Linked DNA regions of Homo sapiens: region 2 is linked to region 1. Evidence: fine-mapped expression QTL. A gene starts in region 1. The other region holds a variant in brackets. All regions are shown on one strand. Distances are from middle to middle. Region 1 holds the start of SFT2D1 (SFT2 domain containing 1). Region 2 holds the start of PRR18 (proline rich 18).

Region 1 (11,588 bases):
CATGAGATCCAAGCACCAAGCACTCTGGGGCTTTGGGTTTGTCCTGTATGCCGCTGTGAAGGAGGTGGATGCGCCATGAATGCAAAGCCACACAAGGTGGATGAAGAGTTGTGGAACCAAAGGGCTGTCTCGAGAAGATTCTCAAAGACGAGGTGCCCAACTGTGAAAAAGATATTTGCTGGCGGCATTAAAGAAGACATTGAAGAACATCGCCTAAGAGATCTTGAACAGTATGGAAAAACTGAAGTGACTGAAATCATGACTGACAGAGGTAGTGCCAAGAAAAGGGGCTATGCCTTCGTGCCTCTGACAACCACGACGCTGTGGACAAGACTGTCACTCAGAAATACCATACTGTGAATGGCCAAAACTGTGAAGTTAGGGAAGTCCTGTGAAAGCAAGAGATGGCTAGTGCTTTATCCAGCCAAAGAGGTCGAAGTGCTTCTGGAAACTTTGGTGGTGGTTGTGGAGGTGGTTTTGGTGGGAATGACAACTTCGGTCATGGAGGAAATTTCAGTGGTCATGATGGCTTTGGTGGCAGCTGTCCACAGCGGTGGCGGTGGATACAGTGGCAGCAGGGATGGCTGTAATGGATTTGGTAATGATGGAATCAATTCTGGAGGTGGCAGAAGCTCCAATGATTTTGGCAATTACAACAATCAGCCTTCAAATTTTGGACCCATAAAGGGAGGAAACTTTGGAGGCAGAAGCTCTGGCCCTTATGGTGGTGGAGAACAATACTTTGCCAAATTTTACTTTACTTTACAAAACCAAGGTGGCTACGGTGGTTCCAGTAGCAACAGTAGCCATGGCACTGGCAGAAGATTTTAACCCATTTATGCCTGAGGTTGCACTTTTTGAATTTGAAAAATCAGACCTTGGCGATGACCTTGAACAGGAGAACATAAATAACTCCCACATGCTTAGCGTTCCAATAATGGAATACCAGGCATAAATGGGTTCACAAAACCAAGGTGGCTATGGTGGTTCTAGTAGCAGCAGTAGCCATGGCACTGGCAGAAGATTTTAATCACTGCCAGGAAACAAAGTTTAGCCGGAAAGGAGAGCCAGAGAAGCGATAGGGAAGCTACAGGTTACAAGAGATTTGTGAACTCAGTCAGCCAAGCACAGTGGTGGCAGAGCCCAGCTGCTACAAAGAAGATATGTTTTAGACAATACTCACGTGTATGAGCAAAAAACTCCAGGACTGTATTTGTGACTAATTTTATTAACAGGTTATTTTCGTTTCTGTTCTGTGGAAAGTACCAAGCATTCCAACAAAGGGTTTTAATGTAATTTTTTTCTTTTGCACTCATGCTGTTGATTGCTAAATGTAATAGTCTGATCATGAGACTGAATAAATGTGTCCTTTTAAAAAACGTGCTGTGTAAAGTTAGTCTCCTCGGAAGCCATCTTGGTAAACTCCCCCAAGAGTGTGAAGTCAGAATTCCTTCAGGGTGATGCCAGGTTCTACTTGGAACTTATTTACACTCTGCTCGGGTGGAGAAGCCACTGTCTTCAGTGAGCTCGGTGTAGCTGAACTGACAGTTACTGTTGTGACCTGAAGTTCACCACCAAAGGGGATCACCCAAGCAAAGTCACAGAATTATTAGTTATAAAAATGATTGTTGGCACATCCCATGCAATATATCTAAACTGAATAATGGTACCAGATAACATTATAGATGGGAATGAAGCTTGTGTATCATCCATAATTGTATGTAGCTAATAAACTATTTAATTCTCTTAAAAAAACACTGTAGACTGGGTAGCTTATAAACAACAGACACTTATTTCTCTCAGTTCTAGAGACTGGAAGTCCATGATCAAGGCGCCAGCAGATTCGGCGTCTGGTGAGGCATCTCTGGTTCACAGATGACACCTTCTGAGTCCTCACACGATGGAAAGGGCAATGGATCCTTCTTTTCCTCAACTTCCCAGGCTCAAGCAATCCTCCCACCGCAGCCTCCCATGTAGCTGGGACCACAGGCACACACCATCACGCTCAACTAATTTTTTAATTTTTTGTAGAAGCGGGGTCTCGCCATGTTGCCCAGACTGGTCTTGAACTCCTGGGCCCAAGCAATCCTCCTGCCTCAGGCTTCCAAAGTGCTGGGATTATAGGCATGAGCCACTGCATGTGGCCTGGGGCCTCTTTTTTAATAGGGCATGAAACCCATTCCTAATCACATCCCAAAGGCACCTCCTCCTCATACCATCACATTGGGGATTAAGTTTCAACATAGGAATTCTGGGGGGGACACAGACATTCAGACCACAGCACTGTGAGTGATTTTGGGGCTGGCCACAGGCAATTACACAGGCTCTAGCAGGCAGGCCTCCCGGGGAAAGCTCCCTCTGCACACCAGACTTGGAGCACAGCCCAGGCAGTGTAGCCCCTGGGGAGGTGCAGTCAAGGTCCCAGGCCCTTCGGCCCACCACACTTTTTCATGTAGTTCCCTTCCTAGCCCAGTGCCTTATTTCCCAGGAATCCTTATCTGAGGCTGTAGGAGTAGACGGGACCCCCAGCTGGCACACGCCTGGCACAGTGGTTGGGAAGCTCACCTTGACCATTCTAGCTTCAGCCCTCCCCTGGCTGAAACCCTGCAGACACAAGTCACTTCCGTGTCCTTAATTCCAAGGAACATTTTTGAAGCATCAGTATCCTTTCCAACTCAACAGCACAGGACACTTTGGCACTCCCTCCTGCTTACAATGTTCTCTTCAACTCCCATGTCCCACCGGCTCTCCTGACTGTCCTCCCGCCTCGCCAGCTGCTCCTGCTTGGGGTCTCCTCTGCCGCCTTAGCTCCTTCTACCTGGAAAGACAGCTTCCTCCTTGTGTTTCTCTACACTCCCCCTAACCACCTCACCCACACCTACCATGGGAACAGTGAGGGAAATAGATAAGGTAGGTATACTTACAATCTTCTAAGTGGGAAAGGCAGAGAGAGCTTAAATTGTTTATTAGGCATTTTTCTCTTATTACCATCTTCCACGCGGTGATCTTTGAAGTGAAACATGATAAATTAATGCCATTTGTAAATATGAAATAACTCAGTCAACAAGCAAATGACTTGTCTCAACCTGTGTGCTATGGTCTGAGTGTTTGCTGAAATCCTCGACCCCATGGTGATGGTACTGGAAGATGGCCCTTCAGGAGATGATCAGGTCATGGGGATGGAGTCCTCATGAATGGGATCCACGCCCTAATAAGACGAGAAAGAGACTAAAGCTCTCTGCTCTCTGCCATGTCAAGATATAACCAGAGGCAACAGTGTGACACCAGGAAGGGGGAGGCCTCACCAAGAACCCATGAGTGCACCTTGATCTCTGACTTCCGGCCTCAAAACCCGTAAGAAATAAATTTCTGTTGTTTATAAATCACAAAGTCTAAGGTATTTTATTACAGCAGGCTGAATGGACTAAGACATCTCGCAAATTGTCAGCAGGGGTTAGTAGGACTCCCACAAGAGAACTCTGTAGAATGTTCCGGCATTATGTTCTTGTCATCTAACTCCCAACAATTACCTTATGCCAATGCCCTCAGCTCTCCTTGGTAGTTACCCAAATCCAAACAACTCACTCATCTGTTTGTTCAACAAGTAGTTATGAACAGCTATTAGACACCAGGTACTTGGTAGGTTCTACATACACAGAAAGGAATAAGACAGCACCTAGCGTACTTACATTCAGATGGGGGAAAATGGGCAATAAACTAATGAGGCAGGTTCTACTAAGGACATAAATAGGGGCAGAGTAACTGGGTCAGGAAGAGCCTCTCTAAAGAGGTGACCAAGTGAAGACATCAGGAAGTGACCAATCCAACTCTGAAAAGAGCCAGGAAGGGGCATTCCTGAAAAAAGAAATGCAACTGCCAGGTCTCCCAGGCAGAAGAAAATGGCTCCAACTGAGGAGGAGAAAGAGGGCAGGGCAAGGCAAGCACTGGGGAGAGGGTGGGGAGGCGGGCCGACAAGCAGTGCAGGGCTGAGAGGCCAAGGGAGGGATCTGGATTTTACTCAAGTGCTGCAGGAAGTCAATGAAGGATGTGATCAGGGGAGGAATATGATCAACTCTCTTAAGATCTGGCTCAATATCTCTCCCTCCTTGACTTCTTCCCAGGCATCTCGAAGGAGAGGTCCCAGAACTCTGGCTACCGTGCCTCTCCCCGGGGCTCAAAGCGCCTGCATAGGAGGATGATGCAGCCTGGATGTCAGGATGCTCCCCTATGACCTTCACTGCCTCGCCCAACTCCTCAACTGGCCTAGAACCATCCCTGTCAAGACCCAATTCCAATGTGCCCGCCATCCTGGTTACGTCTTGCTGCACAAGACGTGCAACACTCTCAGGTCATCCCTCACCCCATTCAGGTCTGTGCGCCTTTAATCCCATCTCATCTCCTACCCATCTCCAAAAACCAACAGCAAACCTCCCTATGTCCTCACCCTCTTCTCTGATGATCCTCTCACCTTCCGGCTAGGTTTGAAATTTAGTCTCCAGGACCAGGGCTCTCCCCTGTGAATCCTGTACCACTTGGACAGGCAGTGAGCTAGGTGTCTGCCCTCCTCACTGCCACTTCCTGCCCCTTCCTCCTCCCTAGAGAAACCTGCTTTCCAAGTCACTCCTCAATAGCCCCCTAGCAACAATTCCCTCTTGCCTGCACCATAATTTTCCCCTTTCCTGGACCATTCCCAATGCACAGAAACATCCAGTATTTTCCTTGGGAAAATGACATGTTCCCCGACCCCACTGCATCCTTCAACTACCACCCACTTCTTTGCTCCACAGGAAAAATCACTGAGATGGCCATACCATCTCCATCTTCTTTCTATTCTCCCCTGACTTCAATCAGGCCTCTGACCCCATCCAGCCACCAAGACTGCTCTCGTGGAAGTGACAACTGATAACCTCCACGGGTAATCTGCTCTTAACTTCTGAGACCCATCAACAGTACTGGGTCCCATCCCCTTCCTAAAGCACTCTCTTCCCTCACTTTCTGGGGCATCCTTCTCTCTTGGTTCTCCTCCTCCTTCTCTCGCCACGCCTCTCAGCTGTCTTTGCCGGCTTCTGCTCATCCTCTAAACTTCTACACACCTAGAGAAAACCAGAGGTCAAACCTTGGACCTCATCTTGACGATCTCATCTCTCTCCTATTTCCTCCCACAAACTCTACAGTGTTACGTCCAACTGCTTTCCTCACATCTCCACTTGGATGCTACCTGGATCTCAGACTTCACGTCCACACTGAAATGATTTTCCTCCCTGAACCTGCTCCTCCCACAGTCACTTAATGGCAACTCCACCTCTCCAGATGCTCAGGTCGAATGCCATGAGGCATCCTTGCCTCCTCCCACTCTCACACATCCAATCCGTCAACAGTGTGGCCTGCTGGCTGTACACTCAGACCATTTACAGAATCTGACCACTTTTTTGTTTTTTAAACAGGCTTTTTTGCTCTTTAAACCACTTCTATCACTGATTTGAGCCACAGTCATCTCTTGCCAGGACAACTGTACTTGTCTCCAGCCCAGTCTCTGGGCTTCTAACATTGCCTCTACAGTTTGTTCTCCACAGAGCTGCCAGAGTGATCCTTTAAAATCCAAGTCGGTCACACCACCACTCTGCTCTAAACCCAAAGGCTTCCTATCACACTCAGAGTAAAGCTAAAATCCTTTCTATGGCCTATGAGAACCCTCACAATTGAGAATCCCCCTTCCTGCTTCACCTTTTCTTCTACAATTGTCCCTCTTCTCTGCCCCGCTGCTAGAGCCCCTCTGGCCTCCTTACTGGCCCTGAACATGCTGACCACACACCACTTGGGACTCTGTATCTGCCTTGGAGGCTTTTATTCACAGGATGCTCAGACATCCCAGCAGCTCTTCTGAGCTGTGCTCACATGACTCCCTGGCAGGGAGGCCTTATCTAAGTAATATGGCAACCCCAACCTCCTCAACCTGCTCTGACTTTTTCTGTGGCTGTCTGACACATTATATACTTGTTTATTCACTGTTTCCTCCAATTAAAATTTAAGTTCCATGTGAAAGAGGTATTTGCACTGGTCACTGTTATTAACACCTGCATCTTGAACAATGTCAAACATATGCAGGAACTTGAATATTTGTTAATGAACGATCACCTCCTCTGAACTCACAGCACTTGTCTATACAGCCAGTCACTCTAATCTTTGATTGATTACTTCTCCACATATCTTTCTCCCCTCTAGACAGTGGGCTCAAGATAAGTGATATTACCTTTGCATCTCCAAAGTTTAGAGTAGCACTGTCCAATAGAACTTTCTGCAATGCAAATGTTCTGTATCTGCGCTGTTTAATACAGTAGCCTTTAACCACATGTGCCTACTGAACATGTGAAATGTGGTTGCTGTGACTAAGGAACTGAATGTTAAATTTTATTTAATTTTAATTAATTTAAATTTAATTGCTCCAGGCGCAGTGGCTCAAGCCTGTCATCCAAGCACTTTGGGAGGTCAAGGTGGGCGGATCACTTGAGGTCAGGAGTTCGAGACCAGCCTGACCAACATGGTGAAACCCCCATCTCTACTAAAAACACAAAATAATTAGCAGGGCATGGTGGCAGGTGCCTGTAATCCCAGCTACTCAGGAGGCTGAGGCAGGAGAATTGCTTGAACCCGGGAGGCAGAGGTTGCAGCGAGTCGAGATCACGCCACTGCACTCCAGGCCTGAGCGACAAAGCAAGACTCCATCTAAAAAAAAAAAAAAAAAAAATTCATTGGCCACATGTGGCTGTGGTAATATACAGAGTTACAGAGTGCAATGAGAACAGATACTTGTCTTACACTCTCTGAACCCAAAACTGTAGCCCAGAACTCTACCCACACCAAGTGCTGAGTAAGTATAATGACAAGGAAGTCAGGAGAGACAAATAGAAGATCCTTATGAAATACAATTCAATTTTAAACGTCCAACTTCTGCGACAGCACACAATAACGTGCAATATAATCGCATGCAATAACAAAAAAACTTACACCGCAGTTCCTGCTCCACTGCTACTTTTAACCTTCTTGCTGGAGGAAGTAACCCTTATCAAGTCTCGCTGGTAAGGCGCAGACACAAGGGCTTTTATTAAGAAAAAAAAAAAAATCTCTTACCAGGGCTCACTGCCTTAACAGAAAAATTTTAATTCAATATTATTTCACTTACCAATGTCCTGTTTATTTTTCCTCCAGTCTCCCTATTTCCAAAAGACCACCCCCCAGCAAACACACACATAACACCACCTTTACCTCCAAAGACAAACAGATGCAACAAGCTTTAGGGTCTCGGCTCACTGCAGCTTGCAGGATAAATGCCCTGCATAGCTACTTACGCTGCACAGCCCGAGGCCAGACCCCGCACCAGGCTCAGAAAACCAAATAGTACGTGGGAGCGATGGATTATTTGGGAAAGCGAGGGCAGACGTTAGCGGATTCCTAAGTCAGAAGGCCAGATGGGAGAGTCGGGGGGGGGCCTCAAAGTGGGTTTAAGTAGACCGCATGGAAAACTGGAAAGTTCTCAAATTCTACCCAGGAAGCAGGCGGAGCCCTCCTAAATCAACCAGCCGGGCAGAGGAGTCCCAGACCCCCGGCCTCGCACCCACCCCACCCGCTCGGCCGGTCCTCAGTGCGGCCGGGGCCAGCGGGCAGCCCCGGGACTGGACGAGGGCGCAAGTTCGCTACCTGCGCAGTCAGGCCCTGCTCCTCGTCGTCCTGGCCGCTCAGGACTCGCCGCAGCTTCTCCATGGCCCTGTTACAGGGCCGTAGCGGCCGCCACTCTGTTGCCTGCCCCTGACGCCCACCAGGAAACCCCGAACCCGAAACCCCACAGACCAGCCGGAAGTCCGGTCCCGCCCGCTTCCTGTGCGTCAGCGCGGCCGCCGTAGCAATGCGCGCATGCTCACCAGCCTTTCTCTCGGACCCGGTAGTGGTCCGTGAAGTCCGCGGAGTGGGCGCTGATGGTGGGGCTATCCCTTCCCACTGTCCGCGAGGTGCGCCGTGGTAACGCGCGGGGACACAGCGCGGGTGTGGACCCCCTGCCCACAGCTGGCGCACAGCCATTGAGTGTAGACCCGACTGGGGCACGACCACTGAACCCTGCACTTGGCGTCCTCCGGGCCCCGCGAGGGGCCTTGCTGGGCGGGTCCGCGGCACCCCGGGTTCCCAGAAGTCGAGGCCCCGAATGCGCCTCCCCTCGCCTGGAATCGGAGAGCGGAGGGCTCCTGCGGGCAGGTGGCCGTGCTCCGAAGAGCGCCCTGCCACCCATGAGGTGGCCCTGGGGGCGTCGCTAGCCTTCCCAGCTGGGTGTCCTCATCCGGAGACACAAACACCTGCCTCAGGATTAAAGCGAGGAGCTGTATTTCAGACCGTCTCAGGAGAAATAGCAAGAGGCTGCCTCACTCCTTTGCCCTTGTGAGAGCTATTTCTTTACTCAGTTCACTGGTCAGCTAGGAGTTTGAAAGAGTGAAATCTTATTTATAAAAGGAATAGCTAATGCAACCCATTTTTCCAGTTTTGTGTGAACAGTGAAACCATTGAACAAGCGTTTACTGTTCTCCGGCTCGTGCTGGATGAACAAACACTAAGAAATGGGGAAGTGGCATTTTTCTCTCTCTCATTTTCCACCATGCTAAGAAAGGAGATTAAAAATCAGGGCTGCCTGTCTAATATGGTCTCCAGAAGTCATTAAGTGATAGGTTTTGCTCTTCTGTTTGCTTCTAGGCTTGGTAAGATGGTAATGAGAATGCCTGTTCTTTTGATTACTTTGCCCACTCCATTTCCTCCCTAAAATCTTTCAGTTAAAAGGTGGATCCTCAAAAAGTTTCATTGTCCATCCTACTGCCTCAGTAGAGATTTTATCTAAACTCAATTAGATAAAAACAAATACCACAGGAACCCTAGGAAAGCAAGTCGCGCCTTCTTGTGATGAAACGGTCCAATGCTCAGCATCCTTTTCCTTTAGGCAGAAGATATTTCTATGTGGCCTGTTCATACTAATATGAGAAGTCTTATCCTTATGTCCTTAACTTTAAAAGGTCAGAAAATAGATTGTAAAATCTATAGAATAAAACTATGTTTCTGTTGAATAAGAGAGTATGTCCGTAAGTGTTACGGGAAAGGGGTCCGGATCCATACCCCAAAAGAGGGTTCTTGGATCTTGCGCAAAAAGAATTCAGGGCAAGTGAAAACAAGTTTATTTAAAAAGTAGAGGAACATCGGTAGTCTGAGGCAGAGAATTGCTTGAACCCGGGAGGCGGAGCTTGCAGTGAGCCGAGATCGCGCCCCTGCACTCCAGCCTGGGCGACAGAGCGAGACTCCGTCTCAAAAAAAAAAAAAAAAAGTAGAAGGACAAAAGAATAGCTACTCCATAGGCAGAGCAGGGCTGTCTATTACCAGGGCTGCTGGTTGCCCATTTTTATGGTTATTTCTTGATGATATGCTAAACAAGGGGTGGATTCATGCCTCCCCTTTTTAGACCATATAGGCTAACTTCGTGATATTGCCATGGCATTTGTAAACTGCCATGGCGCTAGTGGGAGTGTAGCAATGAGAACGACCAGAGGTCTCTCTTGTTACCTTGGTTTTGGTGGGATTTGGCCGGTTTCTTTACTGCAGTCTGTTTCATCAGCAAGGTCTTTATGATCTGTATCTTGTGCTGACCTTCTATCTTATCCTGTGTCTTAGAATGACTTAACTGTCTGGGAATGCAGCTCAGTGGGTCTCAACCTCATTTTACCCAGCCGCTATTCAAGATGGGCTTCTCTGGTTCACATATCTGACATAACTGCTTTCAAGATTTTCAAGTATAGGCCGAGCGCGGTGGCTCACTCCTGTAATCCCAGCACTTTGGGAGGCAAAGGCGGGTGGGTCACAAGGTCAGGAGTTTGAGACCAGCCTGGACAATATGGTGAAACCCCGTCTCTACCAAAAATACAAAAATTAGTTGGGCATGGTGGCGGGCGCCTGTAGTCCCAACTACTTGGGAAGCTGAGACAGGAGAATCGCTTGAACCCAGGAGGTGGAGGTTGCAGTGAGCTGAGGTCGCTCGTTTGCACTCCATCCTGGGCAACAGAGTGAGACTCTGTCTCAAAAAACAAACAAAAAAACCTTACTTCCTAGCTCTTCCTGCTTCCTGGCCACATAGTTTTTTCAAGAGCCAATGACTCCTGAACACAAGGACATGCACAAAATTGTTGGGGTGATCAGACCCAACACCAGGTTGTGGGAGTGACAAAGTCCAGCAGAGTCAAAAGATTGAGAAAAAAGTTTGAGAGAGAAATGTGGGACAACAGGGGCCATTGCTATTGCGGAGGCTGTGAAGGCCCCGAGCTCTGGGAGCCCACAGTGTTTATTGGTAATCCAACTAAGAAACAGGTGGTGAGAATGTGGAGGTCATGTTGCATTAAGCACATGATTTACAGCTGTGACAGTTTAGCATTTATATGGAACATGTTCTGCTACTTGAGATAATGGGAATAGGTGCCTAGGAGCCTAGGAAGGCTAGAAGCAAGGAGCCAGCAAGTCTAGACACATTCCAGAGGACATTATGCAAGCCCTGCCTCAGTTTCCCCCCAACACTCAGCTTTTTCCCAGCATGCCCCCCTTCTCTTTATTGTAAAAGAGAAGATATCATTATTACTAGCTATCATTATTACTAGCATGGCTCTGGTTTGAATGCTTCCCACATATCTCCCCTTTCCCTTTTACAAGAAGACCCTTAATCCTAGGGGTTGCAGAAGGATGAAGGTCCATCTTCTGTAACTTCTTCATGCTGAATAGGGGTGACGATATTCCTGTCTAACTGTTAGGGTCTCTCATATTCAGGGTAGAGAGGAGCTGAGTCAGAAAGCATTGGCCCGTTAAGCATCGTGACTCCGGTCGGTCCTCATTCCTTCTTCGCATTCAGATTCAACTGGCTCATGGCTCACACTGGGGGAACCCGGTCCAAGGTTGGGATCCATGGGTACCTCCAGTCTCCCATTCCATGGTCGTACACATCTTGAGGGTATCCACACGGTTTGTTCATCTCCTGCAAAAACACAAGCATACCCTCACCCCCACGTTAGTAAATCTACTGAAACAGAAGCAAAAACTTTTGTGGCTGTAGCCGGGAGGCCACTGATAATGAGAAACAGGCCTTTTCTGATTAACAGAAGGCATAGAGAAAGCAAATCGAGGCTTTTCAAACCTTCAATTCGCACTGTACTCTACATGTGGGTCCACTAGATGCCGTGGCTCGTGATAGATCTTCAGATGGTTGGTGGGCACCCACACAGACACCTGAGTGTCACCTGGAGAGACACAAGCAAATCCTCTTCCCCACAAAATTATCTTTAGGCAGGGATCAGAGGACGTAGATTCAGAGGTAAAGAGAATTTGGGGGGCCTAATGGCTTCCTCATGTTTGATAGGTGTTCCCTCGGAAGTTAGGAATTCCCTTTCTCTCCATATTGCTGCGTGGGCTTGGAGGACTAGGTAAGCATGCTTAGAGTCTGTATATTTAACCTTTTTCCTTCTAATTCTAGTGTATAATGGCCCCTGCTTTTGCTAGAATGTCTCTCCCTAACAAAGGAGTGG
Region 2 (15,520 bases), 37 kb before region 1:
CTGATAAACGTTCCCTCCCTGAATCCTTAAAAACTCTTAGTCTATAAGAGAAAGTGCCTCTGACCTCACTCGGCCAGAAGCCCCTCTCAGGTTTATTCTCTAAAATAAACCTGTCTTTGACTGTCGAGCCACTTTTCGTGTTTTTTTCCTCTTTCTTTAATTCTTACAGTAAGGAGAACCTTGGAGCATCGGGACTTTTAACTCTGTCTTTATGTATTTCTATCCTTGGGCACAATGAGCACATATAATTTTATAATTTAAAAAATCAGATAGAGAAAGCTTTAAGTGAAAATTGTTCTATTCTGTGATGCCTGAAGGTCAGTTGCACAAGGCAGAATTTTCCATGCCCTTCTATCAGGTCTGCAGTAGCAGAAGTGTGTGTGTGTGTGTGTGTGTGTGTGTGTGTGTGTGTGTGTGTTTGTGTTGGGGCGGGGTGGGAGGAACAGCATAAAGTCAGCTAAATGTGAGACAGCTCTGGGTCCTTCCAACATTACTGGTAAACAAATACATGCCATGTCAACACACCCTGTTGGAAATGTGTAGTTCATAGTCTAATGATATTAAAGAACCAGTCTGCAGGGTGAATCCCCTTTAAGCTTCATGAAATCCACCTAGATGTGCACCAGTCTACTGGTGCATTACCCAGCTGCCAAGTGTCCTGAGAGGGGGATTAATAATTTGTCCACAATACCAAGTACTTGAAATTTTTTCTCTCTCAATTTCCTGAAGAAATCAACAACACTAACAAGCTGTACGTACCAGAGTCAGCTAGCAATGCTCTGGAAACAATAGCAGGCTCTTTAGTCCCAGCTGAAGGAACAAGTCTTTCATTCTCTGCAATCCCATCTGGGGATGTTATTGGTGCTATTACAGTTAAAGAAATCCATGCATTGCAGAACAGTTAAAAATCTGAAACACTGGTCTGTAGAATGAAAGAGTGACTCAGGATGTTTTGATCAACCCAATCAACATGAAGCAATCTAAGTACCTATGGACGTTCATGTCAGCAAGCCCAGCACAGCCCCAGCAAGCCACACAGGACGCTTCTGTTTATGCATCCCACAGATGTGGTCCAAAAAAGACAAATGGTACTGATTGGAGTCTGTTTCGTTAAAAACTGACTCTGAAGGAGTTTCTCATAGAGAAAGATCCGAACCATTTTGAGCTTCGGAGAATTTGGTTGGACCTGGAGGAGGGGCTGGCTTGAGAGAGAGGGAAGTGAGCAGGGAACCTTCCAGCACTTTGCAAAGCCCAGGGCAAGTGGGTTTCCTCCTCTTCCCTCCCGCTCACCAGCTCTCTCCTTCCTCTTCCTCCAGGGCTGGCAGGGCAGAGGTGACACCAGTGGGCGTCAGCTGACCCTGTTCCTTCCATGCCCAAGTCTTCCCTCATTCTGGGTGCCCTGCCCACCCCTCTCCCACCTCTTCAAACACTTCACGCCCTCCCTTCTCCTCGTTAAAAAAATCCCAGTAGCTTACTATGGAGCAAATGAGCCATCTCCAGTTGCCTTGCCGTGCTCACCCTAATGGTACTGACTGTGTTTTACAGCAAAAATAGAATCTTCAGCCATCATCACTAAGTACGTGCTCATGGGGTTCAGTGCTGGGGGAGGCTATGGAAAATTGAGACATCAGGCAATTCCAGCCAGCCTATTCCCAGGTCTCCAGTACCACTGGAAACACGCTCCCCTGGGTTCAGAAAGCACAAGACTATTTCTTAGAGATCTTCACGTAATTAGAACTCGCTCTATCCCTTCATTTCCCAGCTCCTCATTTATCATCCTAACCAGATCTATTTTAAAACAAAGGTAAGTGTAACCTAAAAACTACACACAGCAAAATATCACTGGTGTGATCACAATATTCTCCTGTGCTGTTGCACGAGGTGCTACCCTGAGAAGATTGAGAATGCATTCTTCTAAAATTCTGGTAAATATTTTATTGTCGACATGCGACTATAGTTTCTTCTGGAAGTTGCTGGGCTGCAAGCCCAGATAGGTATCCCTAGAAAAGGTGCTCATAACTTTCTATCTCCACAAAATATATGCCTGCTGTTGAGAGTAGGGAGATAAAGTCATCTCTTTAGTGCGGCTTTGACTATAGCCCCGGCTGCCCCCTGGATCCAGTTGGCCTGAGAGCATCATGATTTGTAACAAATATGAAACTATGTGAGCTCATCTGTTCTTCAGTTTTCTTTAATTGACACTTCCACTCCTCTCGATGTCCCTCCGCAGACCCTGGGATGACACAGAAGCGGGCGCTCGTTGTCCTTTAAGTGGATGAACGAGGCCCTTTGTCTGAAGTCCCTGTCTCCTGTGTGCTGCGTGTGCTCTTTTTCTGCGGCATGACGACACCGCAGATGAGGAGAGCCACAAAGGGCAGCGAGTGTCTCGGAACTCTGTGGTTCCATTGTCTCCGCGGCGCTGGGCTGCAGTCAAGCCAGGCTCACCCTTGCAGGGCTGCACCAAGGGACGAGATGTGACGGTGACAGACGATGGCCAAGGCCATCTTACCGAGTGCCAGGCACGGGCCTCGGCACCTGCTGTGCTCTGTCTGGGGAAGCGGGCACAGAGATGAAGCGGCCCCACGGCGGTCCCTCCCCAAGAAAGGGGTGGACCTGGGACCGGAGCCAGCACAGGGGACCCATGGCCCCCGTCGGAGCCGTCCAGTGCCCCTCAGCGCCTGTCCTCCTTCTCGTTTTCCCAGATAGCTGGTTTCGTATAAGTGTTTTTGTATGTTTTTTATTTGTTTGTTTGCTTGTTTTGAGACGGAGTTTTGCTCCTGTTGCCCAGGCTGGAGCGCAATGGCACGATCTCAGGTCACCGCAACCTCCGCCTCCCGGGTTCAAGCGATTCTCCTGCCTCAGCATCCTGAGTAGCTGGGATTACAGGCATGCAGCACCACACCCGGCTAATTTTGTATTTTTAGTAGTACAGGGTTTCACCATATTGGCCAGGCTGGTCTCAAACTCCCAACCTCAGGTGATCAGCCCGCCTCGGCCTCCCAAAGTGCTGGGATTACAGGCGTGAACCACCGTGCCTGGCTCGTATAAGTGTTTTTTAAACAACTCCCTGGAGTAAAGATTTCCTGCTTTCATGATGCTAACTCAGGAACCCCATGCCGACCCCTCCATCGTGAGCTATAGTAAGGAAACAGGCCGTTTTCTCTAATCCCCAAACAGTCTTAACTCGAATGTTGCTGGCCTCTCGACCATGAAGCAACAGTGGCAAGTGCATGTTGGGAGGTAGTCCAAAGTAGATTTGCAGGGATGTTTCCCTCCCTGCTCCAACAGGACATCCCTATGGGGTGAGGTACAGAGAGGGGCACACCCAGCCCAGCTCCCTCCACTGACCCCAGGCCCTGAGGCAGGCACCATCCAGAAGGGAGCCATGTCTGCCTTGAACTGGCTATGAGTTGGTTGTTGCCACTCCTACCTGAGTGATGGGGGACCCCTCCCAAAGAGTTTCCCCGCCTTTATCTACAAGACTGACAAAGCAGTTGTGTCCAGTCAGTGATGAATGTGAGACCTCGGAAATTAAGGTGAGTCTTCTTATTGATGTTACTAGAAGGCGGGAGGGGCTGTGGGAAGCTGATCTCTTGCACAGATCTACAGGGGCGGAGAGGTGAGCTAAAGTCCAGAGCTTGCTCAGAGAGGGCAGTGGGTGTTGGAGGGGGACTGGGGTTCTCACGCCCCAGGGACCAGGCATCCCCCTCTCCATGAATGCTGTGGCCATGCAAATTAGGCTCTCGTTTGCAAAAGGGAAAGATTTTTTCAAAACATTTGAGATGATGTGTGCTGGGGGAGTTCTGTATATCTATTCTTTCGATGAAGGAAATAAAAGCAAAATCCTCCTTGCGTCCACTCCTACAAAGAACATTGTAAATCACAGAATTTCAGCCTCAGTCATGTGTATATTGGCTGTTTTTAATTATGGCAAAGAAGGTATTGACCACAGAAAAAATATCTTTCTAAAATCACAGTGGGAAATGAGGGTGAGTTCTCACTCTGCATGACACTGTGGGCAGTGGGCTGGAAGGGCTGTGGCCCGGGCCTCTTTCTGTTCACGGCATGTCTGCGGATCCTTTTCACATCTGTAGGATCTGTAGTTATATCCCTTCTTTCATTCCTGGTCTTGATAATTTGTTATTTTTTTTTTCTTGATCAATCTTGCTAAGGGTTGCTTAATCTAATCTTATTTTTAAAGAATCAGCTTCGGACCTTGTTAATCCTCCCTATTGTCCTATTTTGCTGATTTCTGCTGTGGTCATTATCCATCAAAGGTTTTAAATCTATGGTCCATGGAACCCTCAAGGTCCTAAATCCACTTCCTGGGAGGCTCCTGAAGTCCTACCTGGTCTCCCACTGGCCCCACAGCACTGGGACAGGCCCTTTGCATACTGGTTAGGAACTTGTACTCAGGCCAACCTGGGCATGAGCCCAGCTGTAAAACTAAATAGGTGTGAGGTGAATCTGTCAGTTGCTTTACCCTCAGAGACTCATTTTCTTTTCTTTTTTTTTTTTTTTTTTGAGATGAAGTCTTGCTCTTGTCACCCAGGCTGGAGTGCAATGGCACTATCTCGGCTCACTGCAACCTCCGCCTCCGGGGTTCAAGCGATTCTCCTGACTCAGCCTCCCAAGTAGCTGGGATTACAGGTGCCTGCCACTATGCTCAGCTAATTTTTGTATTTTTAGTAGAGACAGGGTTTCACCATGTTGGCCAGTCTGGTCTGAAACTCCTGACCTCAGGCGTCCCCCGACCTTGGTCTCCCAAAGTGCTGGGATTACAGGCGTGAGCCAATGCGCCCAGCCAGAGACTCATTTTCTATACCTGTAAAGGCAAAGAAGGTTGCTGTGAGGCTCAAGCTTGCCCATGCATGCAAAGTAGTCAGCACCAGCATCTCGACGCTCTACCTGTTGGTGGATATGTGAGAAGCCACCTCCAGGACTTATGCAGATGTTATGAATTTTGAGTATGATGCATAATGATTAAATCAAGCTAATTAATCTATCCATCACTTCAAAAGTTTGACATTTTTGTGATGAGAACGTTTGAGATTTTCTCTCTTAGTGATATGGAAATGTACAGTCTGTGTCCTTTTAATTCGGTGGCCTCCCCCTAGAAGGGAAAGGAAGATAACTGCTGAGTCAGCTAGAGACAGCATATGGTCATGGCTTTAGCGAAAAAAGAAGAGAAAGTTAAAAGCAAATGAAAATTGCCAAGAAGTGATCAGAAGAAGAAAAAAGAGAGAAGGTGGGGAAAAGAAAAAGAAAACTTTTTAAGAAGAGAAAGCAAGACAGAGTGTTTCTCTGTACACATGCATCAGAATGCAGACAGACGGCTGGAGCCGCAGGGCTGTGGGCCAGCAGGCAGTGGAGAACAGCCTGGCCGGGCCTGCGCCCTGCACAGGTTCATTAAGGGACTATGCCTTAGATTATCTGCCTGGCCCACAGATTCTGTCAAAAATTTCAGAGCAGGCTGGACGAGGTGGCTCAGGCCTATAATCCCCTCACTTTAGGTAGCTGAGGCGGGTGGATCACCTGAGGTCAGGAGTTCAAGACCAGCCTGGCCAACATGGCGAAACCCTGTTTCTACTAAAAATACAAAAATTAGCCAGACATGATGGTGGGCACCTGTAATCCCAGCTACTTGGGGGGCTGAGGCAGGAGAATCACTTGAACTCAGGAGGCTGAGGTTGCAGTGAGCCAAGATCGCGCCATTGCACCCCAGCCCGGGTAACAGAGTGGGACTCTGTCTCAAAAACAAAAACAAACAAAATTTCAGAGCAGATACAAAGGCAAAAATAAGAGATTGTGGGGAGCAAATAAAATCTTTGCAATCTTAGGTTACAGACTTCAGTCCTGGCTTGAACATTTCTGACTAGTTCGGCAAATTCTTTCATCTCCACATTCTTGTAGGTAGAAATAAAAAGGTTGAACTAATTAATTTTTCAAATTTCAATAAAAACTCTTCTATTTTTATGCTTCCAAAAGTTATGTGTTTCTGTGCATGCTTGCGTATGTGTGCACGAGTGTGTTTGTGCGCATGTGTACATTTGTGTACGTGTGTGTTTGTGTATGTGTGCTGTGTGTGCACCTAAGTGGTGGGAAGAAGCTGAGGATCTTATCTTGCTATCATATTCCATAAGTGGCCTTAAAAAGCAACTGAAACCACAGACCACGTTCTGGGTTGGATCTTGTCCCCAACACCCCCAAATTAATATTAATATATCAAAGCTCTAAATGCACTGTGACTATATTTGCAGAGAGTGCCTTTAAGGAGGTAATTTTAAGGTTAAACGGGCACATACGTGAGGGCTGTGATCCAACAGAACTGGCATCCCTGTAGGAGAAGGAAGAGATACCAAGGCTCTATGAGGACGCAGTGTGGGAGGCGGCCGTCTGCAAGCTAGGAAAGAGGCCTCACCAGGGACTAGCCTTGCCGGCATCTTGATTCTGAACATCCAGCCTCCAGAACTATAAGAAAATAAGTATCTGTTTTTTAAGCCGCCCAGTGTGTGGTATTCTGTTAAATTGGCCCAAGTAAACAAATACAGATCAATGGCTGTCCTAAAGAACCGCTCAATATTGACTGTCCTCAAACCAAAGTCATTGCTCTCGGCAGACCTGGATACACCTTTGGACATGCTGACCCATTAGATTACGTAAGGAACAGTTCCAGTTAGTTTTGTGTCTCAGATACCCTTCATCCTGTAGAGGCAGGGTAAATATTTTTTGAATGAATAATAACTGAACAATTCTGGGCCTGCTGGCATACTATCCTGCTCAAAGTGAAATACTCAACAGATACTTGTTATAATTTCCTCGTAAAATCAGGTGTTGAGCTCCATGCACTGTCTGGGGTTGGCTTTTCAGGACACGCCCATGCATCTGCAGTTCTCAGAGCCTGCCTCCCGCTCTGGTGACAGGATGGCATCAGGAGTGGCATCAGGAGTGGCATCGGGAGTGGCATGTGCTGTGTTGTAGAAGCTTGTATCTGGGAGGCTCTCATAATTATGCTGACAGAGGTAGACGAGGGAAGACCTAGGACACAGTCATCAAGGGCGGGGACTCCGGATGAATGAGATGTGGGGCAAGGCCCCCCAGAAGTGGAGTGGCCAGCACTCCCAATTCTATGAGCTGGACGGTGCCTAGGCTGATGACATGGGGTCACTTTAGTTATTTTTGGTCATTGCATCCTACCCTCCCTGCCGTGAAAACACATGGCCAGGAAGGGAGACATGACTACCTAGAAAAGGAGACTCTATATTGACAGAGTCGCATTGCAGGGTCTCTTGTGAGAGGACACAGTTGGTTAAATCCACCTTCAATAAAATCTGCCTGAAGTATTTCCTGAGCCTGGTCGTGTATTTCTTGCCATATAGCAATGGCTCCCAACCTGGTGGCACATCAGCCCTTTCCCAGATCTACTGAATTAGTATCCCTAGGTCTGAGGTCTGGAATATCTGTTTCTTAAAACACTTCCCATCCATTTCAGATGCAGCTAACCCAGCCTTTACAGCAGGCACTAGGAGCCAACATGGTATGGATGAAACCAGCAGTTTGATTGTTCTAGGGTCTCTTAGTTCTGATACAGGAAGTACTGATAGATAAACCTACACTGAAGAAGGTTCTTTGGCTTCCCTCAATACTTTTTTTCCCTTCAATAATTTTTGAGACTAGAAAGAGGTCACGAGACCAAACATTTAAGGACTGATGTCGAATTGTCTGAGGTACTAGGGCAGTACTTGCTAAATATTTGAGCAGATCTAAAACTGCTTCCTGAAGATTCCCTACTGTATTTTGTAGGTTTCCATCCACACCACCTCCATAAGGTGGGATGGTCCAGTTCCAGCAAGGATGTCGCTGATAATGACCCCACTGGCTTTCATCAAGAGCTAATAGTAATGTAAAGAACATTTAGGCATCTTTGGCCGGGCGCAGTGGCTCATGCCTGTAATCCCAGCACTTTGGGAGGCCGAGGAGGGTGGATCACGAGGTCAGGAGATCGAGACCATCCTGGCTAACACAGTGAAACTCTGTCTCTACTGAAAATACAAAAAAATTAGCCGGGCATGGTGGCTGACACCTGTAGTCCCAGCTACTGGGGAGGCTGAAGCAGGAGAATGGTGTGAACCCAGGAGGCAGAGCTTGCAGTGAGCCGAGATCACGCCACTGCACTCCAGCCTGGGTGACAGAGTGAGACTCCGTTTCAAAAAATAAAAAAACAACAAGAACACTTAGGCATCTTCGAGAAGCTGCATTTAAGGATACTACTATCCATTGTGTTGTATATAATCCAAATACACACATAACAATTTTCTCCAAGAAGTGTTTCTTGTTATTAGATATTGAGATTATATGACTCTTACTTTAAACTTTGTCTCTGCTACCAGGAAGCTCAGAGCTAAATTTTGTGCTCATAACATAATAATTAAGTGTGAGATAAGAAGGCAAAACACAATAGACATTTTAATTTTTTAATTCCTCAGGAATATAAAAGTGTAGGTGTGCATTAAATGGTTAAAGATAAAAATCTCAGAATGCTGTAACTAGGGAGGTTTTGAATGTGCACAAGAGTGCCAGAGTTTTTTGAGTAGTAAAGACTTTTTTGAAATAGTAAAAATTACAGTTAACTTTGAGCTGGGGGAACGCTTCGCATATTGCCTCATAATCCTCACCAGGGTCACCTATGTTCAACTATCCCCACAGACAGAAGAGGAAACAGACATGGAAGTTTAATGAAAGATGTGGATAAATGACAGCATCAGTGTGGCAACTCCAGCCTCTAGGGCACCAAAACCCACCTTGAACCATGGTGCGGTACCTTCTCCCACACAATGCTGAGGGGCGCTCTGACTCCAAGCCAGACCAAGGGGCCTCCACTACAGGCCATGGGAGCAGCTGTGCCCTTACCCAGGCAGCATCTGGACAGAGGCCATGCT[G/A]GGGAACCACATCAATCCAGGTTTCCCAGAGGTCACAAAGGCCTGTGTGTGCATTTCTGTTGATGCAAAAGTGTCCTTGCTTACTAGAGAGACTGTTATTTTCAGACTTTCTTTGAATGATATACCACGGTTGGCTGAAAAGCAGAGATCCCACAGATCACCCACCCTAAACTGAACCGCGTGATTTCCAGGGAAACCCCACAACTAATGGTTCTGACAACTTGGCATCCACTTTTCTAGAAATAAGGCAGATCAACATAAAAACCTATCTTAAAGTGCCAGCTATTCTCTAAATAGAGGGAATTAAGTCACATATATGCTCAATCTTTGGAACTGGCAACACTTTTACTTACATAGTGGCACCCAATTTTCTCTCCTGGGATGGAAGTCCTCCTCAGTCCCTGCTATGAGATATTACAGTTATGGGAGAATTTGATAATAATATAATAGTAATCTAATAGTCTAGCAATTATTCAAATTGACCCTTTAATTTCTGATTGGTATGACCTACCAGTATGAAATTACTTTAGGCAAAATAAAAAAAATATTCTAGTGAGTGTATATAGGAGGAGTCCTTAACCTGGGACCCATGAGCTTCTTAAAATATATGCAAATTATATGCAATGTTTTGTTGCTATGTGGTACACGGTTTTAGGAGTCCTTTTGGAATATAGCTTTCACGGGGATTTGTGGCCCCATAAAAGGTCAAATGTCATTGCCAAATAACCTTACAGTATTTGACTATCTTAAAAATCCTGGTAGTGATTTTTAAAAATTCTAGTAGTGATTAAAACCAGCAAACCTTTTTCAACTCCTGGAAATCCCAGAACCTTAGGTTGAGTGCCACTATGAAGAAATCATGTCATGTGAATTGTAAATCCCTCAGTAGTCTCTTCCTGACCAGTTTTCAGTGTCCCCCTCAAAAAGAATCACAAGTCACTGAATTTCTCTTTTATTTAAGCATTAAGAAATTGGAGCATAGCGACTTAGAAAACTTTCTCAAAATGTCCTTAACAGCAATGAAAAGATATCATGTGTCACGTGTAAAACCTTTTTTCTGTTTGTTTTTTATTGAAGCTCATTGACCAGGGAAACATAAATGTTCCACTCATCTGCTTTTAAAGTAGAGAACAAGGCCCACAAACTCTATTTAATAAATACAAATTACTAAAAATGCGCTTAGTGTTGTATTGTGGCCAGTTAAGAACAGGAGATGCTGGGACAGAGCCTACAGAAAGGGCGGGAGAAGAAAGGAAATCAAAATGAAGCAGCTGACAGGGACGTCAGGGAGACACACAGGTGCAGTGACAGCCACACTGCAGCAGAAGCTCAGCTTGGAAGACAGAGGCTGCAGAAAGTCGGTCCCTCTAGGATGCCACCAGGGAAAAGTCTTCAAAATGTTGTTGTTACTGTGACCAAGGGCAGAAGTCTAGGCATCTTAATTATTGGTATTTGCACTAAGTGCAAGACGAGACCAAGTTGAGCCACTCCTGCCCTCGGCTCGGAGTCAGTGCACTCTTGCTCCACCCTCTCAGCTCCAGACCGTGTGCCCTGCCCAGGACGGCGCACTCAGAGACCATCTGGGTGGGGGTGGAACAAGAGCAGCACCGTCACTTGCATAAGCATTGCTAGTTTTGCCCCTCTAGAATTAATATATTCATTTTAAGTAAAAGAAAACTTATCTCCAAATTCAAAGAAGTTATTCAATGGGTAGGTTTTTTTCTGTTTTTGCAACTCATCTGGCAGCTGACCTAGCTCCCAATGAATTAAATGCTTCACATCTAACTAAATGTGTGCCTAGAATTAGAGAGAGAGAGAGAGAGAGACAGTGTGTGTGTGTTATTAGAGCAAAGACCTCCACAAGAAAAATACAAAATCTGTTTTAAAAATGTAAGGCTTCAATTTAAAATACAATTAAGACTTGATACATTTAAAGTCTATCAAGATAAACATTAAACCAGTTATTGGCTTTTACAAAGTCAGTCAAAAATTGAGGTAATACATTACTCTTTTATAACCAGCCTTATCTGATTATAACATTTTATTTCCTTCTCATCCTTCTAGTTAGATATTCTCAGATACATGGAAGAAATATGTAGAAATCAGCCTCCAGTTAGCGGGGGAAAGGATATGGTTACGAAACAGCGGAGGAGCTTTACTCTCTATTCAAATAATACACAGAAAAAATGTAATCAGCCGAGCGGTTTCCATGGAAGCGCTCATTGACCAGGGCTCACCAGCGCCTGGCGATGCCTACCCTTCCGCTTTGGAGACTGGAAATTCGGTTAACTGAGTTTCAGGGATGTCTAATACCCTCAACATTTTTCTGACTTGGGAGAAAACAAAATCACGAATGTAGGACCGGGTCCCAGCTCTGCAGGAGGCCACCGTCGCGGCCACCCACCTGGGCCATCGCCCACCGCACTGTCCAGGGTGCCCGGCGCCGGCTGAGGGTGACACCACGGGGCGTGCAGATGTAGCCCTGGGGAAGGCCCGCCTCCAGGCAGAGGGTCTCTGGGACCTAGACGAACCCTGGGGGTCGGGGCACCAAGAGGCATTTTCTCAGTTGCTTAATTCCCCACGAACTGCATGGATGCTCGGCGATGCCAAGAGGAGGCCAGAGTGGGGGCAGAGGCAGGCATCTGGGGTAGATACCACCGGTGTGAACGAGAAAGGCCCGGGCTGCCGGCTGGCGAGGGCAGGAGGGGGGCCGTGGCCGTCGGGCGAGTCTGGCTGCGCCCCACGTGGGCCAGCTTGCGCACTGGTGTCCCGAAAGTGGGCGCTGGCGGCCAGAGGAGCCTGCGGTCTCCCCCGAGGGCCCCTAGGCGGAGTGGCGCGTGCAGGAAGTGAGGTGGGATCAGGCCTGGCCTGTCCCCGCAGGCCCGCTGGGCTCACAGCGTGCTCAGGTGCCGCCGTGAGTCCAGGGCCCCCGCCCGGCCCCGCGCGGCAGCCGCGGACTCCACGCCGCGCAGCCACTCCGTGCACTTGCGTACCAGGCCCTCGTCCACCGCCTCTGGCTCCTCCTCGTACTCCACGTCGTCGTACCTGTGCCGCTCGTTGAGCAGCGACACCTTGAGCATCGGCCGCAGGGCCCCGGGCCGCGGGCTGAGCTGGGGAACCTGCAGGCCGCCGTGCAGCAGCTGGGCGCCGGGCGGAGGCGCGCGGCGGCCCTGGCCGGCGGTGGGGGGTGCGTCGGGGTCGCTGGCGGGGCCGCCCCTCCGCGGGCCCGCGGCCCTAGCCGGGAGACACGGGGCGAGTAGGCGCCTGGGTTCGGCCGAGGGTGAGGGGAAGGGCCTGCGGGGCCGCGCCAGCAGCTGCTTCTCCAGATGACGCTTCTGGATGACCAGGACGGCCTCGGGGGTGAGATTCAGGCAGAAGCGCGCAGCGGAGTCTGGACAAGGCCCCGCCCCCGAGGAGGTGCCCGCGGCGGTGGTCCCCGTCCCCGCCGAGGTCGCCGCATAGGTGGTCCTCGCTGGGCTGTGGCCGGAGCCTGCCGGCCGGGGCGGGGCGCACGTGGCTGGGGCCCGCGCGCGGCTGGGCAAGGCCTGGGGGGAGACGCCCGGAGGGGCCGGCGGCTGCGTCCTGTCCAGGCCGGGGCCGCGCCGGGCCGGCGGCCTCTTGAGCGTGGCGGAGGGCCAGGAGCTGGAGAGGAGCCCCTCGGGCCGCTGTGGGGGCCTCTTCTTCTTGTCCCCCGCGGCGCAGGGCCTCCGGGGTAACTGGCGCGCGGCTTGGGCCCCCGGGGCGGGGGCGGGCGGCGGCGGCATGGGCGGGAAGGGCATAGTGCAGCCGAGCCGCCGGATCCTCAGCCCCTGGAAAGAGAGGCGGGCGCTCAGCCACTGTGCGCGGAGCGGGTCCCCGCAGTCCGGGCGGCCCCTCCACACCCACCTGCGTCCAGCCGCGGCCTCTCCGGCTTCCTCACATCCCAGCGACCAAACCCGGGGACTCAAAGAGAGGCGCTCCCACCCTCCCCTCCTCCTGGGGGTGCTCCCGGGACTGGACCCTGCAGGAACCGCCTCCCGCCGTCCGACTGTGGGCGAGTCGCGGCGCCCCCGGGTCCCCACAGCTGAGACGCGGGCCGGGCCGGCAGGAGGAGGAGCCCAGCGCGCTCGCTAAGGACGCGGCCCTGCCAGGCCCCGGGCTGTGCCCGGCTGGTGTCACGACCGACTGTTGAATGGGAGCAAAGTGCCAGGACAGCGGAGGGCGGAGCGCGCGCCAGGCATCCCGGGGCTCCCCCAGCTGGCGCTCCGGTGGTCCGAGGTTAATGTAGTCCGTCGAAAGCCAGGAGCATTCCCCTGGGGGAGCCGGCAGCCTTCCGGAGTCACAGGTGGAGGCCCTGCACGTTTCAGAGAAAATCCCCTGTAGCCTCTCCGTGCCTTCGAGACGGCGGGAAAGGCACCGCCAGTAGATGCAGCTCTGCGGCCCCGGACACATCCTGCTTCACAGAGAAAAGCGGGCTGGAGCTGAGAGGGGAGAAATGACCCTCAGTGAATCTTACATAGTGTTCATGCCACCCCTTGAGGAGTCACTTTCAAATTCAAAACCTAAGTATCTATGAACAGGCAAAATAGTTCAGTTTCAGCTATATAATGCTGATTACATGGCAAATATTAGACATCAAGTCCCTTTAATAATTCTTATGAGCAAAGCAATATATTTATCACTGTAGCAGAGATTCAGAATTAATGAGATAAATCTTCACTGTCAATTTACATTCTAGTCGTAGACACATGAAGACATCCTACAATATTCAAATGTTTGTTTAATAAATAATTGAACAATTGCAAAGTGACGGATCAAAAAGTCAACATTTCATGTGTGCAGTCCCTGCATTACTTAAGGATAATCATCAGCTGCTTAGATCTCCACAAAGTACTTTCCATCAGATACACTTTTCTGATGGAAACCAGGTGTGTGATGGTTACGGCCCCAGGTTAGCTCCAGAGCACATTCAACTGTGGGTAAACACAAATGTGCCCTGTGCCAACAGTCACAGCAGGACAGCATGGCCCTCCCCCAGCCGCCTCAGTCTCCGAGGCAGCAGCAACGCCTCCCCTTGTTGACTGTTGGTGGCCTCAGAGAACTGCGCTGTGGATACATGGGAGCGTCAAGGAAACCTGGCAGGTGGTGGGAAACACTTCTCACCAGAGCTTGGGTTGGGGTGACAGGTTTGGGCCCTGTCATCTCTACCAGCACCTCCCAAGCCACCCCAATACAGCTCTGAAACAAGCCTCCCAGCTCACAGGCACTTTCCCTCCATCCCTGCCAGCCTGTCTCTGCCGGTGGGCTCAGGCTGTTAATCGGCTTGACAGGTGAGGTCCTAAGATACTGAAACCTCCTCCTCAATATGTTTTATTCCAGGTTTTAGAATCTCTGGATGGGTGTGGGAAGAGGCACGTCAGTGGCGGCAGGAGGCCCACAGTTCTGTGCCTGGAAAGTGGAGAACTGGAAGAGAAGGTGAGGCAGGAGAGGATGGGGGTGGGGCGGGGGGCGGTATCAAATATCATTTATGGGGGCACAGCTGGAGAGGCAGGCTATGGAGAAAAATCAGCAAACACTTGGACACTCAGACATCTGAGTTTGGAGCCCCGCAGTTCAAAAGCTGTGACGGTGCTGGTGGGGTCTTCTCTCCTTCCTGTCTCCTTACTCTTAGGATGCTTCAGAAGGAATGACAGTTTTGGGGTGAGAATGGGTTGGTGGCCTCATAGTAATGCTCCCGACTTCCACTGCTGTCTCCATTCTGCTGGGACACTGGTCGTACAGAGGCGAGGTAGCTACGCAACTGCCATCACACAGCTCTAACGGGACGGAGGAGATAAGACTCCACCCCAGGAGTGCGAGTCCAAGGCCAGATTGCAACTTTTACACTAAAGCTGAGAGGGAAAAAGTCTTGGTAGATCAGGGTGATTGGATTAAGTGACCTCTCACCCACAAACTAGTAGCGATTTGGGCCTTTTTAAGCCAAGAAAAGTGATAGTTTATCAGATTAATGCACGTGTCTGACCAGACAAGAACTGGGATTCTCCAAGCCCTCCCAGACGTCTCATACCAGCCCAGAAGCTTGGAGACATGGAAAGCTGTAAGTTTGTGTGACCCTTGAGAGGCAGAAAAGTACATTCTGAGTGTCCGCCACCTCATCACCAGGCCAGGTAGGAGGGGCAGTGCCTCTTCCCTGTCTCCCCAGAACCCTCAGAGCAAAGCATGCTCCTACGAGGGGTTCTGAGCTCTGGGTTCTCATGGCGGGTTGCTGCCCCAGGAGTACGGAGGAGTTAGCATTGCCGACGGACTATCCCCTCTTCAGACTCTGATAAAAGCACCCAAATGACAGCATCGCTTGTCCCCTGCCCAGCTACTTCTGCTACTTGAAACCTTCAGCTCCTTGTAAATTAGAAGTTAGAAAGATTGGCTTGGGCCTGAAACAGAATGCGTGAAAGCAGCCTCTGTCGCTGGCCCTCACTGGTGCTGTGGCTGTTAAAGAATCCGTTACAAATACCCTTCGGCTGATGCAAGCAGCCAGCAGCAGTTCCCAGCAAGGAAAGCCACGCCAGAGAGATGGCTGCGTTTAACTTCAGGACAGCAGGTGT

What was found.
Region 2: its variant is fine-mapped to the expression of SFT2D1 in whole blood (INTERVAL, PIP above 0.99).

Annotation. Positions count from the first base shown.
Region 1 is chr6:166,334,724-166,346,311 of GRCh38, forward strand. It overlaps SFT2D1 (SFT2 domain containing 1), which reads right to left and starts at 7,822. Exons shown (of 8, transcript NM_145169.3): 1 at 7,696-7,822. The coding sequence starts at 7,758. LOC100289495 (a long non-coding RNA gene) reads left to right here and starts at 7,908. Exons shown (of 2, transcript NR_040022.1): 1 at 7,908-8,424. It also overlaps the pseudogene HNRNPA1P49. RefSeq lists a silencer at 7,533-7,692 and an enhancer at 7,754-8,647.
Region 2 is chr6:166,295,425-166,310,944 of GRCh38, forward strand. It overlaps PRR18 (proline rich 18), which reads right to left and starts at 12,968. Exons shown (of 1, transcript NM_175922.4): 1 at 9,876-12,968. The coding sequence starts at 12,718. The coding sequence ends at 11,831. It overlaps LOC107986669 (a long non-coding RNA gene), which reads left to right and starts at 12,124. Exons shown (of 3, transcript XR_001744464.2): 1 at 12,124-12,299; 2 at 14,298-14,393. RefSeq lists a silencer at 12,451-13,050 and an enhancer at 13,121-13,400. The variant G/A (reference allele first, on the strand shown) is at 8,940.